Linked DNA regions of Homo sapiens: region 2 is linked to region 1. Evidence: fine-mapped expression QTL. Tissue or cell type: whole blood. Region 1 holds a variant in brackets; the other region holds the start of a gene. All regions are shown on one strand. Distances are from middle to middle.

Region 1 (8,105 bases):
GGTCTAAAAAGTATAGGCCCAAGATAATCTCAGAACTTTGGAGTCATTCTTTCATTCGTTCAACAAATAACTATCCGGTACTTGTTGTCTATGGAGTAGTCTTCTAGGCATTGGGAATACTGCCAATAAAACAAAAATTCCTGTTTTCATAGAGCTTATGTGTTAGTTAGGGAAGACCAACAATAACAATGTTAGAAGTAAATGATATGGCCGGGCGTGGTGGCTCATGCCTGTAATCCCAGCACTTTGGGAGGCCGAAGTGGGCGGATCACCTGAGGTCAGGAGTTTGAGACCAGCCTGGCCAACATGGCGAAACCCTTTCTCTATTAAAAATACAAAAATTAGCCAGGCATGGTGGTGCACACCTGTAATCCCAGCTACTTGGGAGGCTGAGGCAGGGACAAATTGTTTGAACCCAGGAGATGGAGGTTGCAGTGAGATTGTGCCACTGCACTCCAGCCTGGGCAACAGAACGAGACTCCGTCTCAAAAAAATAAAAAACAAAAAAGAAATGAAGTAAATGATACATTAGAAGGTAATGAGTGCTATGTAGGAAAATGAAGCTGGAAGCTCCTATTAATTGGATGTTGGAACAGCTGGATTGATTGCAATACTCTGTTTTGAATTTGTATTCGAATACAAGTTATTGTATTTCTTTTTGTCTCTGCCCTACATTCTAGCAGAATTCTAGCAGAGTTTCCTATCTTAAAATGTTGAACATTGGCCAGGTGCGGTGGCTCACACCTGTAATCCTAGCACTTTGGGAGGCTGAGGTGGGCAGATCACTTGAGGTCAGGAGTTCAAAACCAGCCTGGCCAACATGGTGAAACCCCATCTCTACTAAAAATATTAAAAAATTAGCCAGGAGTGGTGGTGGGCACCTGTAATCCCAGCTACTTGGGAAGCTGAGGCAGGAGAATCACTTGAACCTCGGAGGTGGAGGTTGCAGTGAGCTGAGGTCACGCCACTATACTCCAGCCTGGGTGACAGAGGGAGACTTCATCTCAAAAAAAAAAAAAAAAAAAAAAGTTGAACATTTACATTTTTCTGTGCGTTTTCCAAGAATATTTTTAGTTTTGGATATAATTTTTAACACATCATATAGAAGAATACATAAAGTTGTCTGTACAGATTAAGGCCAAAACATCCTCTTTGGCTTTTCTGTTTCAAATTAACAGAAAAAAGACTGTGTGATAGACCCAGCTAACTCTGCGGTTCTCTCTAGTGTCAGTGAGTTAAGGAGCTGAGGGAACTGCATGGTATGACATGGCCATGCAGGTCCCACCTTAGGGTACCAGTGACGTTTTTCCACAGAATGTAGGGGGTGGCAGGGTGATAGTGCTGTGTGGAAAACAGCTATCATGAGAAGGGGCCACTGAGCCCAGTATGCCCAGTGAGGACTCTGAACTCCATCTTTTTATTAATTGTTAATTTTTGTGGGTATTGAACTCCATCTTGAAGGTAGGGCAAGCCTCTGACTTATCTTAGGCAGAGGGTGAAATGATAATTTAAGGTTTGAAAGACACTCCAGAGGGGGAAGGATGAGAGGAGACTGTAATCCAAGTGAGAAATGAGGCCTAAACAGAGACAGGGTATTTAGACAGAGGTGACAGAGGATGTCAGGTGAGATGATTCCAAGTTCCTGGCTTGGGCAATTTCTCAATCACTCTCTGAATCAGGGAAGAGAAAGGGAAGGTTTGTTTCCTGTTGGGAGTGGCATTGATAAATTCAATTCGGAACATTTTTTTAGTTTCAGGAGCTTGTGGAATATGCAGCCGAGGATGCATAGCAGGTTGGCAGTAACATGAATTTGCTTTCAGAGAATCTGGAGTAGATTTGAGAGTTATTAACATATAACATAGGTATCATGAGTAAGGCTGATGAGAAGGATGAGAAGAGACGCAAGCTTGAAACAATACCAATTTTTCTGTTTTGTCTATAACTATTGAGCTATAGTTCACATATAATAAACTGCACCCATTTAAAGCATACAATTGGATAAATCTTGACAGAAACCACCACAATAATCAACATACAGAACATTACCATCACCTCTCAAAGTCTCCTCAGACCCTTTTAGCCCTTCCCTCTCTCCATGCCCTTACTGCAGACAACTACTCATCAGCTTTCTCCCACTGGAGTTTGCTTCTAGAATTTCGTGACTGGTTTCTTTGGTGTCTAGCTTGCTTTTTCACTTAGCATAATCCATTTTGAGATTCATCGTATGGTTGTATTTATCAGTAGTTCTTTTTTTTTTTTTTTTTTTTTTTTTTTGAGAAGGAGTCTCACTCTGTCACCCAGGCTGGAGTGCAGTGGTGTAATCTCGGCTCACCACAACCTCCGCCTCCTGGATTCAAGTAATTCTCCTGTCTCAGCCTCTGGAATAGCTGGGATTACAGGCGCCCGCCACCATGCCCGGCTAATTTTTGTATTTTTAGTGGAGACGAGGTTTCACCATGTTGGCCAGGCTGGTCTCGATCTCCTGACTTGAGGTGACCCACCCATCTTGGCCTCCCAAAGTGCTGGGATTACAGGTGTGAGCCACCCGTACCCAGCCAGTAGTTCCTTTTTATTTGTAAGTGGTATCCCACGTTTTGTTTAGCCATTTACTCGATGGGTATTGGGGGTGGTTTCTATTTTTTCCTATTAAGAATAAAACTATGAACATTCATGTACATGGCTGTGTGCAGACACAGGTTTTCATTTCTCATGGATAACTAGAAACGGAATGCCTGGGTTATATGGTAGGCATATGTTCAACTTTTTAAAAACTAAGTTTTGCAAAGAGATTGTAACATTTTATGTTCCCATCAATAACAGTTCCAATTATTCCAAATCCTTACAGCTCTTGGCATTCTCAATCTGATTTTAGCCATTCTAGTAGGTGTGTAATGGTCTCTTATTGTATTCTTTTAATGTCCATTTCTGTGATGACTAATGATGCTACTGTGCTTATTGGTCATTTGTATATCTTCTTTCGTTCTATTCAAATTTATTGCCTGGTTTTTAGTTGGGCTGTATTTTTATAACTGAGTTGTAAAGCGTCCTCATATATTCTGGATCCAAGTCCTTTTGTTAGATATATGTTATTATGAATATTTTATTCTGTGGCTTGGCTTTTCATTTTCTCAACTGTGACCTTCAAAGAGCAAAAATTTTAATTTTTTTTTAAAAGCCCTATTTATCCATTTTCGCTTTATGCATATATATATAAAATGAGATGGGGTCTCACTATGTTGGCCTTGCTGGTCTGGAACTCTTGGGTTCAAGCAATCCTCCCTGCTCTACCTCCCAAAGTGCTGGGGTTACAGGCATGAGCCACCCCGCTTGGGATGCCTTTTTTATTCTAAGAATTCTGTGCTTATTCCAAGATGGCAAACATATTCTCCTGGTTTTTTTCTAGGCTTATATTAAATAGTTTTAGCTTTTACATTTAAGTCAGCGATCCATTCAGAGTTAAGTTTTTTATCTATTTCTGTAGGGCAGAACATCAGTTTTTAAAGGGTGGGCAAGGTGAAAAGAACCCTGAAGGATACCAGGGAAAATGATGTTTCTGAAGCCATGAAAGGTGCAGGTGGGGTCAGTGGTGGCAAATGCTTTCGAAACCAAGTTTGAGTGTGGCTGAAAAGTACTTAACGTTAATTTACCGGGCCTACCTTGTGCCAAGCACATCACACTTGCTCTTAAGTTGTTCAGTCTATTGAGGGCATCTTGCTTTAAAAAATGTATGCATAAGACAAAAGCTGGAGGTGGTCGGAGTCGAAGGAGATTTTTTGTTTTTGAGACATGGGCACGTTTGTATGAAGGATAAACGTCAATAATGAAGATGGGGGAGGACTTAGGGTGTCAATGAGGGGAAAGGCCACTGAGGCTGGAAAAAATAGTACCCAGAGCCTAGTGGAGGGATTAGCTTTGGCCTGGAAGTATTTAAAGTTCACCCAGAGTTCCGGAAAGAAAAATGGAGGAAAAGAAGAGTTGCGGGGAGAGACAAGCGGTATCCCTGCAAATCTGAAAACTGGAAGAGGAATTGGAAGTAACCTTTTCGGATACCGTCTGGAGCCCACGAAGGCATTACAATTTTGCAAGTGAGAAGCTTCTCCTCTAAGTTGTCATTTAGTCCTCGTCACGTGGTAAAAAGTATCGCACGCCCACAGTTCTACACCCGAAAGTCCGGACACCTGAGCGACTTTCCGGGCCAGAGGCCCCAAGGTGCATCGGGGCAGAGCCGGAAGCGGACGCTGAAAACTGGCGGCTCCTTAATGGTTCCGGCGGCAGGGACCGCAGCGACGCCCTCACCGGAAGTCCCGCCTCTGCCGTGGGCCTGCGAGAATCGAGGCACTCGCTGGCGTACCCATGTATCGAAATGAGTTCACGGCCTGGTACCGGCGGATGTCGGTGGTCTACGGGATCGGCACCTGGTCTGTGTTGGGCTCACTGCTTTACTATAGCCGGACAATGGCGAAGTCGTCAGGTAGGGCTCTTCGGCGGGGCCTGCCCCGGAACACACGGCCTTCGATGAGAGTTCCCCGGGGGTCATGGAAACAACTTCC[CT/C]GTCCTTTAAATCCCAGGTTTATTCTGCAAAACTAATTGAAACGGGTGCTAACAGCCGTTTGTTATAATGGAATCTGCAAAGAACTAGACTCCAGGAATTATTAATACCTTGTAAATATTGTTTCCTAAATCTGAATCATTTACTGGATAGGGCCGTCCCCATATTCAGAATTGGAGGAATCTGTGTAAAGTGCAAGGTGGACTTTCAGAGACTCTGGCCGGTGATTTTTAAAGAGTGATGCTTCAGTACTACTGTCCCTCATCGTATATGGCGAGCAATTTCAGTACTTTTAGCAGCCAAGGCGTATTAAAATCTTCCAGTTACTAAGCGCAAAGGGAGAAAAGTCTCTCAGCTTTGAAAAATATGCTGGAAATCTGTAGAGACATTAAGTTGATTAGTGTGGTTGCTAGGGGCTGAGGGGTTGGGGAGTTGGGGAATGACTGCCAAAGGTATGGATTCCTTTTGTGGATGAAAGTATTTTTAAATTGATTGTGGTGCTGGTTGCACAAATCTGAATATACTAAAAACATTAAATTGTATATTTTAAGTGGGTTAATCGTATATGTTAATTATATCTCAGTAAAGTTGTTGTGTAAAAACTATGCTGAAGATTACATTTGGTGATGAAGCTGTCAGTGGCCTGAAAGTACATGTGTCCAGCATTAAGCATTTAAAAACATTTTGGCCGGGTGCAGTGGCTCACGCCTGTAATCCCATAACTTTGGGAGGCCGAGGTGGGAGATTGCTTGAGCCCAGGGGTTCGGGACCAGCCTGGGCAACATGGGGAGACCCCCATCTCTACCAAAAGAAAAAGAAATTTTTATATATAATATTTTATATTTACTTTATATGTAATATATGGTAAAAATACTTTACATTTATATATAAAGTAAAAATATTTTAATGTCCATATTTATGTTTTCTTTCTTTCGTTCTTTTTTTTTTTCTTTTTGACAAGGTCTCACCCTGTCGCCCAGGCTTGAGTGCAGTGGCATGATCTCGGCTCACCACAACCTGCGTCTCCGGGCTCAAGTGATTCTCCTGCCTCAGCCTCCCGAGTAGCTGGGATTGCAGGCGCAGGCCACTGCTGCCCGGCGAATTGTTTTATTTTTTTTTTGAGACAGAGTCTAGCTCTGTCGCCCAGGCTGGAGTGCACTGGCGCTATCTTGGCTCACTGTAACCTCCATCTCCCAACTCAAGCAGTCCTCCTGCCTCATCCTCCCCAGTAGCTGGGGTTATAGGCCCATGCCACCACGCCCAGCTAATTTTTGTATTTTTAGTAGAGATGGGGTTTCACTACGTTGGCGAGGCTGGTCTCAAACACCTGACCTCAGGTGGTCCACCTGCCTCGGCCCCCACAAAGTGAGATTGGGATTACAGGCGTGAGCCACCGCACCCAGCTTTTCTTTTCCCTTCCTTTTCATTCCTTCCTTCATTATTGGGGTTGGAGAGAGTGGATGTAATTCTTACCTTAGTTAATTTCTAAGACTTTAATGACTGCTTTCTAAGTTAATAATTCAGGTGTTCTTTTTTTTTTTTTCTCTTAATGGTGATAAAGTAGACCAAAAGGATGGCTCAGCAAGTGAAGTACCCAGTGAACTCTCTGAACGCCCAAAAGGATTTTATGTGGAAACAGTTGTCACATATAAAGAAGATTTTGTTCCAAATACAGAAAAGATCCTCAACTATTGGAAATCATGGACTGGTGGCCCTGGTACAGAACCATGACTGGCTGCTGAATTCTGAAAACCAGGACTTGGTTCAACATTTAAATTTGATAGTTGCCCTGATTCCCATTTTGGGTTTGTGAAAAGTGTATGTATTTAAATTTGCTGTAAAACATAATCACTAATAATATGCAATAAATATTTTCTTGAAGGAAACTATCTGCGTTTTCTTTTTTTTTTTTTTTTTTGAGACGGAGTCTTGCTGTGTCACCCAGGCTGGAGTGCAGTGGCTCGATCTCGGCTCACTGCAAGCTCCGCCTCCCAGGTTCATGCCATTCTCCTGCCTCAGCCTCCCGAGTAGCTGGGACTAAAGGCGCCTGCCACCATGTCTGGCTAATTTTTTGTGTTTTCAGTGGAGACAGGGTTTCACCGTGTTAGCCAGGATGGTCTCCATCTCCTGACCTTGTGATCCGCCTGCCTCAGCCTCCCAAAGTGCTGGGATTACAGGTGTGAGCCACGGTCCCCGGCCTACTATCTGCATTTTCAAGAGGTGTTCCTCTGTATTTGCATGAGTGAAAGATTGCTGTGAAATTTCACATAGAGCTTCCATAAGCTTGATTTCCTGAAACTAGTTAATGTAGATTTATATTTCTTTCATGTTGCTATTAGGCACAGCTTTAGTGGTCGCTTTAAGGTTAGTTTCAGCAAATCTCCATATTCACTTTGGGATTCACAGTAGCCCTTTGGGTACTACTGCGTACTGGGTAAGTATGATATAAATTTGATTGTAACTTCTGAATTAAACAGACTGGACCTATTCTTTAGGACCAGTGCACATACCCCTCATTCCTTCAGCAAGTGTGGATTACCCACCAACTGTGGCCAGTGCTATTCTAATGCTGGGAATGCAGTCAGGACGACATGATTGATGCTGAACCAGTTTCCTCAGTGGTCTCTTGGTTGCAGGCAACAAACACAAGTGAGCTTAAATCAAAAGTGGGTGTTTATAAAAAACGTGTATTGGTAGCTCAGAATTAAAGCAGAGAGTATGGGCCAGGAGCGGTGGCTCACGCCTGTACTCCCTGCACTTTGGGAGGCCGAGGGGCGGATCACAAGGTCAAGAGATCGAGACCGTCTTGGCCAGCATGGTGAAACCCTGTCTCTATTAAAAATACAAAAATTAGCTGGGCATGGCACCGCGCACCTGTAGTCCCAGCTACTTGGGAGGCTGAGGCAGGAGAATCGCTTGAATCTGGGAGGCGGAGGTTGCAGTGAGCTGAGATCGCACCACTGCACTCCAGCCTGTTGACAGCGAGATTCCATCTCAAAAAAAAAAAAAAAAAGCAGTATGTTGTCTTCAGAAGGCCTGACACTGGGACCAGAATGCAGGCAGCCACTTGTTGAGCCTGCCTGGGCTCTTGGCCTTGCTTTTCTTATTGCACACCAGCTGCTTTTCTCACCTTTCTGGAGTAATACAAATATCCCAAGAAGATACTACCTCCCATGTGCAGTGCCAAAGTCTGACCAGCCTCTCCTCAACCTGGTCTTTGGCTTCCACCCTTGCGAGAGACTCAGTTCAGTTTTTATCAGATCCCTGCCTATGGATTATAGAGTACTGCCTCAGTTATGAATAAAGTGGCATTTGTTTCTCATTTAGGTAGTGTTTTCCTGTTCATAGCTGTTGGGACCCTGTGAGTAGAGATGTGATGTGTGGTAGGACAGGAATTGGGCATTTCAGGGTTCCTCTACAGTACTATGACCTTCAGACCCTCATCTTGATTTCTCATTGGTGTCAGTTCCACCATTATGGGTGGCCTGAGCAGTGCTGTGGTGCAGTCAGCCTTAGTGACAAGGATTCCAAAATCACAAGTAACAGCTCCAGATGC
Region 2 (8,105 bases), 60 kb before region 1:
AGAGGTTGCAGTGAGCCAAGATCGTGCCACTGCACTCCAGCTTGGGCAACAGAGAGAGACTCCATCTCAAAATAATAATAATAAAATAAAATAAATAAAAGAATTTAGACTCAGGCTACAGATGATGATAATATGTCAGAAAAATTATGAAAGATTTTGAAATAGTCAAAAGAGGTTACTGGGTGAACTTTCTGTGGAGTGCTGTGCATTTTTAAAAGACTCTCTGGGGGCCGGGAGTGGTGGCTCATGCCTGTAATCCCAGCACTTTGGGAGGCCGAGGCGGGCAGATCATGAGGTCAAGAGATCGAGACCATTCTGGGCAACATGGTGAAACCCTGTCTCTACTAAAATTACAAAAATTAGCTAGGCATGGTCGTGTGCACCTATAGTCCCAGCTACTCGGGAGGCTGAGGCAGGAGAATCGCTTGAAGCCGGGATGTGGAGGTTGCAGTGAACTGAGATCGCGCCACTGCACTCCAGCCTGGCGACAGAGCGAGACTTCGTTTCAAAAACAAAAAATCCCCTGGGTCATTTGCCGTAGGAGGGATGTACCTCTGCCTTTGAGTATGCTATTTTACAACTCTGTAGAGATAGAAATTAACTTATAGAAGATAGTAATGCAAATGTTCCCTGCCCACAACAATGAAAACTATTCCTGTCCACAGCAATGCAAATCAATTTTGTGTGATAGAGAATATGTCACTATAAATCAAATTCTCCTTAGAACCAGTCTGAACATCCCTCCTGGTCGTAGGGATTAATTAAAATCAATGAATGAGTTAAGTAAGATCTTTGGCACATGTTCATTTTATATTTGCATGAAGGCCATAATTTTACCTTTTGAAACACTTTAACAGTTTTGAAGCTTTCACCAACATCCCAATGGATTCACCTGACAGAACCAGGTAAACCACATTACTGAAGAACACCCCATGGGGCTAAGCCCAAGCACATTTTTTCCTGGCTCCGGGAGTGAATACCAAGTAGCAATAGTACTACAGCGTTGCTGACTTTCTCCCTAGGTTTCTTTCTCCTCCTTACTGATTTTGGGTTTTGTTTCTGATTCGCCCACAGCTGGCGGATTTTTCCCCATGAATGGCGACACCAATTAGGAACTCGCGGGAAACCCCGTTGCTCCCTTTCCCCTGGCTGGCAGCGCGGAAGCCGCACGATGCCTGGAGTTCCTGTAAACCACGTGAACCAGCGGGACTTCGTCAGAGCTCTGGCAGCCTTTCTCAAAAAGTCCGGGAAGCTGAAAGTCCCCGAATGGGTGGACACCGTCAAGCTGGCCAAGCACAAAGAGCTTCCTCCCTACGTTGAGAACTGGTTCTACACACGAGCCGGTTCCACAGCGCGGCACCTGTACCTCCAGGGTGGCGCTGGGGTTGGCTCCATGACCAAGATCTATGGGGACGTCAGAGAAACGGCGTCATGCCCAGCCACTTCGGCCGAGGCTTCAAGAGTGTCCTCCGCCGGGTCCTCCAAGCCCTGGAGGGGCTGAAAATGGTGGAAAAGGACCAAGATGGGGGCCGCAAACTGACACCTCAGGGACAGAGAGATCTGGGCAGAATTGCCGGACAGGTGGCAGCTGCCAACAAGAAGCATTGGAACAAACCATGCTGGGTTAATACATTGCCTCATTCAGAAAAAAAAAAAAAAATTAGGAACTAGGTTTTACATTCTGAACATTTGGTGATCTCTTTAAGTGAATTAATAGTTTTTAGAGATCTATTCTCTTTTGGATAAGAGATGATGAAAAATCTGGTTTGTTAGTCTTTTTGTTTGTTTGCCTTTTTGTCTACTTATGAGTTCAAATCAGTTAAGACTTCCATGCCCATTGGGAAGGAGAACAGCTTTTTGTTATCTAGTCCACTGAATTTTTATGTTTCTGAATTTACTTTCGACCTGTGGCCAAAGTTGCAGAACCAAAGCTATATGCTATGTGTCTATGTGTCTTCCCGGCTGTAATCAACAAAGGCCTTCCCCTCTTGTTGTGGGAGTAAAAAAATCTTACTACCTTTGTAAAGTTTTAATAAGTTATATTATTTCATGTCTTAAAGGAGCTCTGTTATAATTCACTTATGGAAACAAACACATGTAAATCAATTATTTCTAAAATTCCAGAAAATAAGTAAATTAAACTTATGCATGCAAAATTTCTTAAAAATGCTGAAACCATCCTGACAGGGTTAACAAGATTACAAGCCAGCCTTTAGGCAGGTTAGTTAGGCACTGACCAGGGTGCATTGGTGCCCTTCAATTCACTTCCCTGCAGCTGCTAACTAACCAAAAGCCTTGCAGCACACTGATCACCTACTCCCTGATTGCTCCTATCCACAGAATCTCTGACACTAGCTCTTTGTACCCAGGAATTGCTTAAGGTATTTTTCAGATCCTGAATTCCCACAAAACAGCTGATGCCAAACTGTCTAGGGATCCCCACCAGGAAGGGCACAGTGGCTCACGCCTGTAATCTTAGCACTTTGGGAGGCCAAGGTGAGAGGATCGCCTGAAGCCCGGAGTTTGAGACTAGCCTGGGCAACAAAGTGAGACCCTGCTTTACAAAAAAAAAATTTTTTTAAATAAATAAATAAAGACCTCCACCAAGAAACAACACTGGAATGAAGTTTCTTCATCTCCCTGTCCCATGACTTCACCTCTCACTTCCTGACCAATCAGAAATCCCCACACTTTAGCCCATTGCCCCTCCAGACTTCTTAAAAATGCCATCTCTAATCTCTTGGGGAGGTGGATTTGAGGATTGCTCTTGTCTCCTCATTTGGCTGCCACTTGATTATGGAACTCTTTATCTGCTGCAACTCCTATTCTTTCTGTTACCGCACAATGGACAATCGAACCTGATGGTCCTATAACAATCTTTCTTACAGAAATTGCTAGTACAGAAAGAATCCAGGTTCAAATAATCAAGGCAAATCTTTGGCGAATAATATTAAGTTTTGGTTAAAAAAAATCCCAGCTATGTCTTTTCTCAGTGTTAAGTATTATACATGTGTACATTTTGAGTTTGTTTCCTTACCGAGAATAATTAATCTGAACTTCCTAAATTTATAAAAGTTTACTATTGATAAGCTAATATTAACATTACATTGTTTAAGATCCTGAAAAATGTGAATTTGTTCAACAAAACTGAATCATTCTCACATTTAACAGTAATTGTTTCTTTGTGCCTTAAACTATTAATAATTTCTATGATCTGTAGATAACTTAAAACTTAGTATTAAATTGAGCTAATTAATGGATACTTCTTGGATGCCTAGATATGTTCTTGCATAATTTTATGTTTACATCGTTTTGCTTATTTTTATATGCTACAGAGACTACAACTCTGAGTCACAGTAATGATGTGTTCATGTTTGCCACTTGTCAGCGTGTGTAAAAATGGTTGTGGTGGCTTTATACAGTTGTGTTCTATCGCGCCTTTTGCAGCAACATGGATGCATCTGGAGGCCATGATCCTAAAAGAATTAACGCAGAAGCAGAAAACCAAATACATGTTCTCACTTGAAAGTGGGAGCTAAGCATTGGGCACACATGGACACAAAGGTGACATTAATAGACGCTGGGGACTACTAGAGTGGGGAGGGAGGCAGGGAGGGGCTGAAAAACTTGGGTACTATGCTCAGTATCTGGGTGACCAGCTCATTCGAATTCGAAACCTCATAGCCAGGTAACAAATACGCAGTGTACCCCCTAAATCTAAACGTTGGAATTATTTTTTAAAAGAAAGTTATGTTCCATGTATTTCTAAGCTTACTCTCCTAAAATGGTTGAATATTACAGTTCTCAATTATTTATCTCCATGTAGAAGGATGACAGGGACTGTGCGCTAGTGCCAGCCTCCGCTGAGAGCGCCAAGACATTACAGCAAGCGACGGTAGGAGAGCTTGTAACGTGAAGCACCACCACACCTCTGTACTTCAAACTTAACCACAGAGACCGACTCCCAAACCAGCAAGTGCGTAAGCGCCGCCGCGCTCACCACCCGCCCCGCCCCTTCCGCATGCTAATGCCTTCTTCCGGCAGCCTTAGTTTCTTCCAACCAGTGCAGCTCCCTGTTCCGCGAGCATACGTCATCGTTCTCGCTTTCCGGTAGCTAAGGCGATCAGCGGGACTTCCCACTGAGACGAGCGGATGTCATATTGTATCAGGGCGAACCTCTGAGGAGCGCTGGCTGCGCTTAGGCAACGGTGCGGCAGGCGCCGGGGTTTTCTGAAACAGAAACGTTTAGGGGTGGGGAAACGTGTTCCGAGGAACTCTCGTTTTGAAGTGCGACATACACCTGTCTTGCCCTGTTCCAAGATGGTGGCAGAGCTTCTCTGAGTCTCTCGCTTCCTCCAGTCCGTCGGAGAAGCGCTCTTTGATTGGCCAGTGGACAGCGCCGTGGCATGACGCGCTGGGGCGCTGGCCAATCGGTTGAGAGCTGAGCTGGACTTGGCGGTGGGAGCCGGAGCCTGCTTGTTGCAGCTGTGGGTGAGGACGGCTCTAGCTAGGTGAGCGGCTCCGGCCAGGTGAGCGGGGCGCATAGGTGACGGAGGGCCGAGGGCACGGGTATGAGTTTCTGCCGGGGGCGAGGTGAGCGGCTTCTGGGAGGAGGCCTTTTCTTGACAGTTTAGGGTAGCGGGGGAATGGATGATCCGGGAGTCCCCTGCGGATGTCGTCCCGCACCAGGCCGGGACCGATTTCTGGCTCCAGTTTCCCCAGAATTGCGGAGTGCGCACACCTGGAAGGACCCAAGTCCCGTTTTATAGTTGAGAAACTCAAGACTCAGACAAGTGAAACGACTTTTGCTTCATGACAGCTGGAACTGGAACCCAGGTCCTTGGACTCCCTTCAAGGATTAAACCTCACTTATTCTTACATACACATGGTCACTGTGTCCTGAGAAGTTACGAGTTGGCGCGATAAGGGTGGTTCAGATTTTTTGGCATATTCTCCTGTTATCTTTCCAGGCCTTTCATTCATTCACTAATTCATACTTTCAGTTATTTACCTCTTCAGATACCTTCCCCGATACTTTGGTAAAAGCTATGGACCCATCTCCCTAGAAAAACGGCATATTCCCTCATGCGCATAACTTCAGATGATTAGTGGACCTTCTATAGTCCCCTTGGATTATGTGTCCACTGCTAAGAATCCAGACCCTAGAAGGGTGAGGGAAACAGGCAGTAGGAAAAGGAGGGAGCAGGTCTTAGGCTGTACATGCTTGGAAACCATTAGATGGAGGCAGTAGCTTCTTTTTTTTTTTTTTTTTTTTTGAGATGGAGTCTCGCTCTGTCGCCCAGGCTGGAGTGCAGTGGCGTGATCTCGGCTCACTGCAACCAATGCCTCCCAAGGTCAAGCAGTCCTCCCTGCCGCAGCCTCCCGAGTAGCTGGGATTACAGGCACCTGCCACCACGCCCAGCTAATTTTTGTATTTTTAGTAGAGACGGGGTTTTGCCATGTTGGCCAGGCTGGTCTTGAATTCCTGACCTCAGGTCATCCACCGGCCTCGGTCGCCCAAAGTGCTGGGATTACAGGCGTGAGCCACCGCGCCCGGCCGCCAGTGCCTTTTAATAAAGAACGTTTTGAGAGAGAGACGGTTATTTAATGAAATCTGCTGACATACTTGCTGAGAGTTGTGATAGAACTTGCTTTCATTCCGACTTTAGTTATCCCTTTGCTTCCCATGAAGCTCCAGAGTGCTTCCTGTGCACACAGTGCTTCAGGTTCTTGCCGTTGCCAGAAATAAACAGATTTCTTAGAGTTTCAGTTGGAGCAAACATTGGAATTCTTGTGTTCTGGGCTTTATGTAGTAGAGTAATTCATTTGCTTTTCTAGCCATGCAATATTATTGCCTTAATCAAAATTATTTACAGTATGGTACTTCCCAAAATAACAGACAGTTGTTATCCATATTCAGGAAGTGGGCGCGAGAGGCCACTTTAATTTGATAGACTCTTTAATTTGCCTTTTTACTACTTTTCTTGAGGGGCTTGTTCCCTTGAACCCCAATAGCTGAGTTGTGTGTTACCCTAGATTTTAGGATATGAACAGGATGTATAAATACTCAATGAAGTTGGGATCATCTGGGTTTGAGAGTTTAGCCTGTAGGACAGTTTTACTGACCACAGTCTTCATTTTTTTTTTGAAACAGAGTCTGGCTCTGTCGCCCAGGCTGTGCAATGGCATTGTCTCGCCTCACTGCAATCTCTGCCTCCCGAGTTCAGACGATTCTCCTGCCTCAACCTCCTGAGTAGCTGGGACTATGGGCACGTGCCACCACACCTGGCTAATTTTTGTATTTTTAGTAGAGACGGAGTTTCACTGTGTTGGCCAGGCTGGTCTTGAACTCCTGACCTCGTGATCCGCCCATCTCAGCCTCCCAAAGTGCTGCGAGTATAGGTGTGAGCCACCACACCTGGCCTTGACCACAGCCTGTCAAGGCATGAACATAAGCAACCGTGGTGAGGAAAGAGGTTCTGGTGAGACTCAGCATAATAGTAATTTTGGTAATACCAAGTAGAAATAATTTAGCTCAAAACTGGTTCCCATTATGAACCAAACTTGAAGATCAGTATCCAGCTCTTTTCTCCAAAGTTAACAAAGTGCGGAAGGGAATGAGCACCCCCCCGCTACTGAAAAAAAAATCACTTGGAATGTAAAATTTAATAGAGGAAGAAAGGAAGGAGATTAGAGAGGAAGATAGTTGGATGCCGAAACAGGGTTCAAGACTTACCCTTGAGCAAGGGGCTGAAATTGGCTTGACTGATAGGACGTGTGATCTGTGAGGAGGTTTGAAGTAGTAGTGTTTAACTACATGTAGTTTGGAGATGATCAGGTGATTGTAAACCTCCCACTCCTTTGATTTATTTTTAAGTGCTTGAAAGGAGAGGTGAGAAAGGAGCAGTGATCAATGATAACTGTGCGGTTAACTGACTTTTGGGTATCAGATGGAAAAGAAATACTGTCATTCTACAGCAACAGGTTCTTCCCAAGTATTTAAGAAACACTGTGTTAGTTGGGCCGGGTACAGTGGGTCACGCCTGTAATCCCAGCACTTTGGAAGGCCAAGGCGGGTGGATCACCTGAGGTCAGGAGTTTGAGACCAGCCTGGCCAACATGGTGAAACCCTGCCTCTACTAAAAATACAAAAAATTAGCCGGGCTTGGTGGCACAGGCTTGTAATCCCAGCTACTTGGGAGGCTGTGGCAGGAGAATCGCTTGAACCCGGGAGGTGGAGGCTGCAGTGAGCTGAGATGGGAAAAAAAGAGAAACACTGTGTTACATGACCCATCTTCTTTTTTTGACATTTAGTTCAGAATTTCACATACCATTAAGGTAATTAAAGTTTTATCTTCAGTTCCCTTTTAGACTATGGCGACATACCTGGAGTTCATCCAGCAGAATGAAGAACGGGATGGTGTGCGTTTTAGTTGGAACGTGTGGCCTTCCAGCCGGCTGGAGGCTACAAGAATGGTTGTACCCCTGGCTTGTCTCCTTACTCCTTTGAAAGAACGTCCAGACCTACCTCCTGTACAATATGAACCTGTGCTTTGCAGCAGGCCAACTTGTAAAGCTGTTCTCAACCCACTTTGGTATGGATTCTTTTGAAACTGGTAAAAATGATAAATACAATATATTATGAATTTTATGTGATGCTCATAAAAGTCATTAAATTTGGGCAGGTCATCAAATTTGTGATAAGTAGTAGATGATGAGACTCCTAAACGATTCTTGTGGTGAGTAGTAAGTGGTGAATATTTGTAGAAATCTCCCTGGCCTGATAATTCCAGATAAAATTGGAATCTTACAGGAATGAGGTAGAGGTAGAGGGAGAGGATTTGTAATTCACTTTTTTTTTGGCTGATAATCAGTTTGCTTTTGGCTTAACTGTAGACTTTATTGATTCCTCTTAAAGTAATTTCCCAGAAGAATTCGAAAGCTTAGACCGTCTTCTCATGCTTCCCGGGTACAGTGATGCTATATGGCAAGGAGAAGTAGCAGGCAGAAGAAATTTTAACTGTTAACAATTTGTTAAGTGTAATTTTTTTTTTTTTTGTGCCTGAGATAGTGACCTATTTCTTTTAAATGTGGGCATTATTTGA

Evidence for each region. PIP is the estimated chance that this variant, and not a neighbour inherited with it, causes the effect.
Region 2: SEC23B starts here. The variant in region 1 is fine-mapped to the expression of SEC23B in whole blood (TOPMed, PIP 0.99).

The regions. Positions count from the first base shown.
Region 1 is chr20:18,563,126-18,571,230 of GRCh38, forward strand. SMIM26 (small integral membrane protein 26) reads left to right here and starts at 4,307. Exons shown (of 2, transcript NM_001348957.2): 1 at 4,307-4,471; 2 at 6,111-6,435. The coding sequence starts at 4,354. The coding sequence ends at 6,280. RefSeq lists an enhancer at 3,995-4,094 and a silencer at 4,158-4,440. The variant CT/C (reference allele first, on the strand shown) is at 4,551.
Region 2 is chr20:18,503,462-18,511,566 of GRCh38, forward strand. SEC23B (SEC23 homolog B, COPII component) reads left to right here and starts at 4,479. Exons shown (of 20, transcript NM_006363.6): 1 at 4,479-4,511; 2 at 7,361-7,595. The coding sequence starts at 7,375. It also overlaps the pseudogene RPS19P1. RefSeq lists enhancers at 4,020-4,349, 4,700-4,749.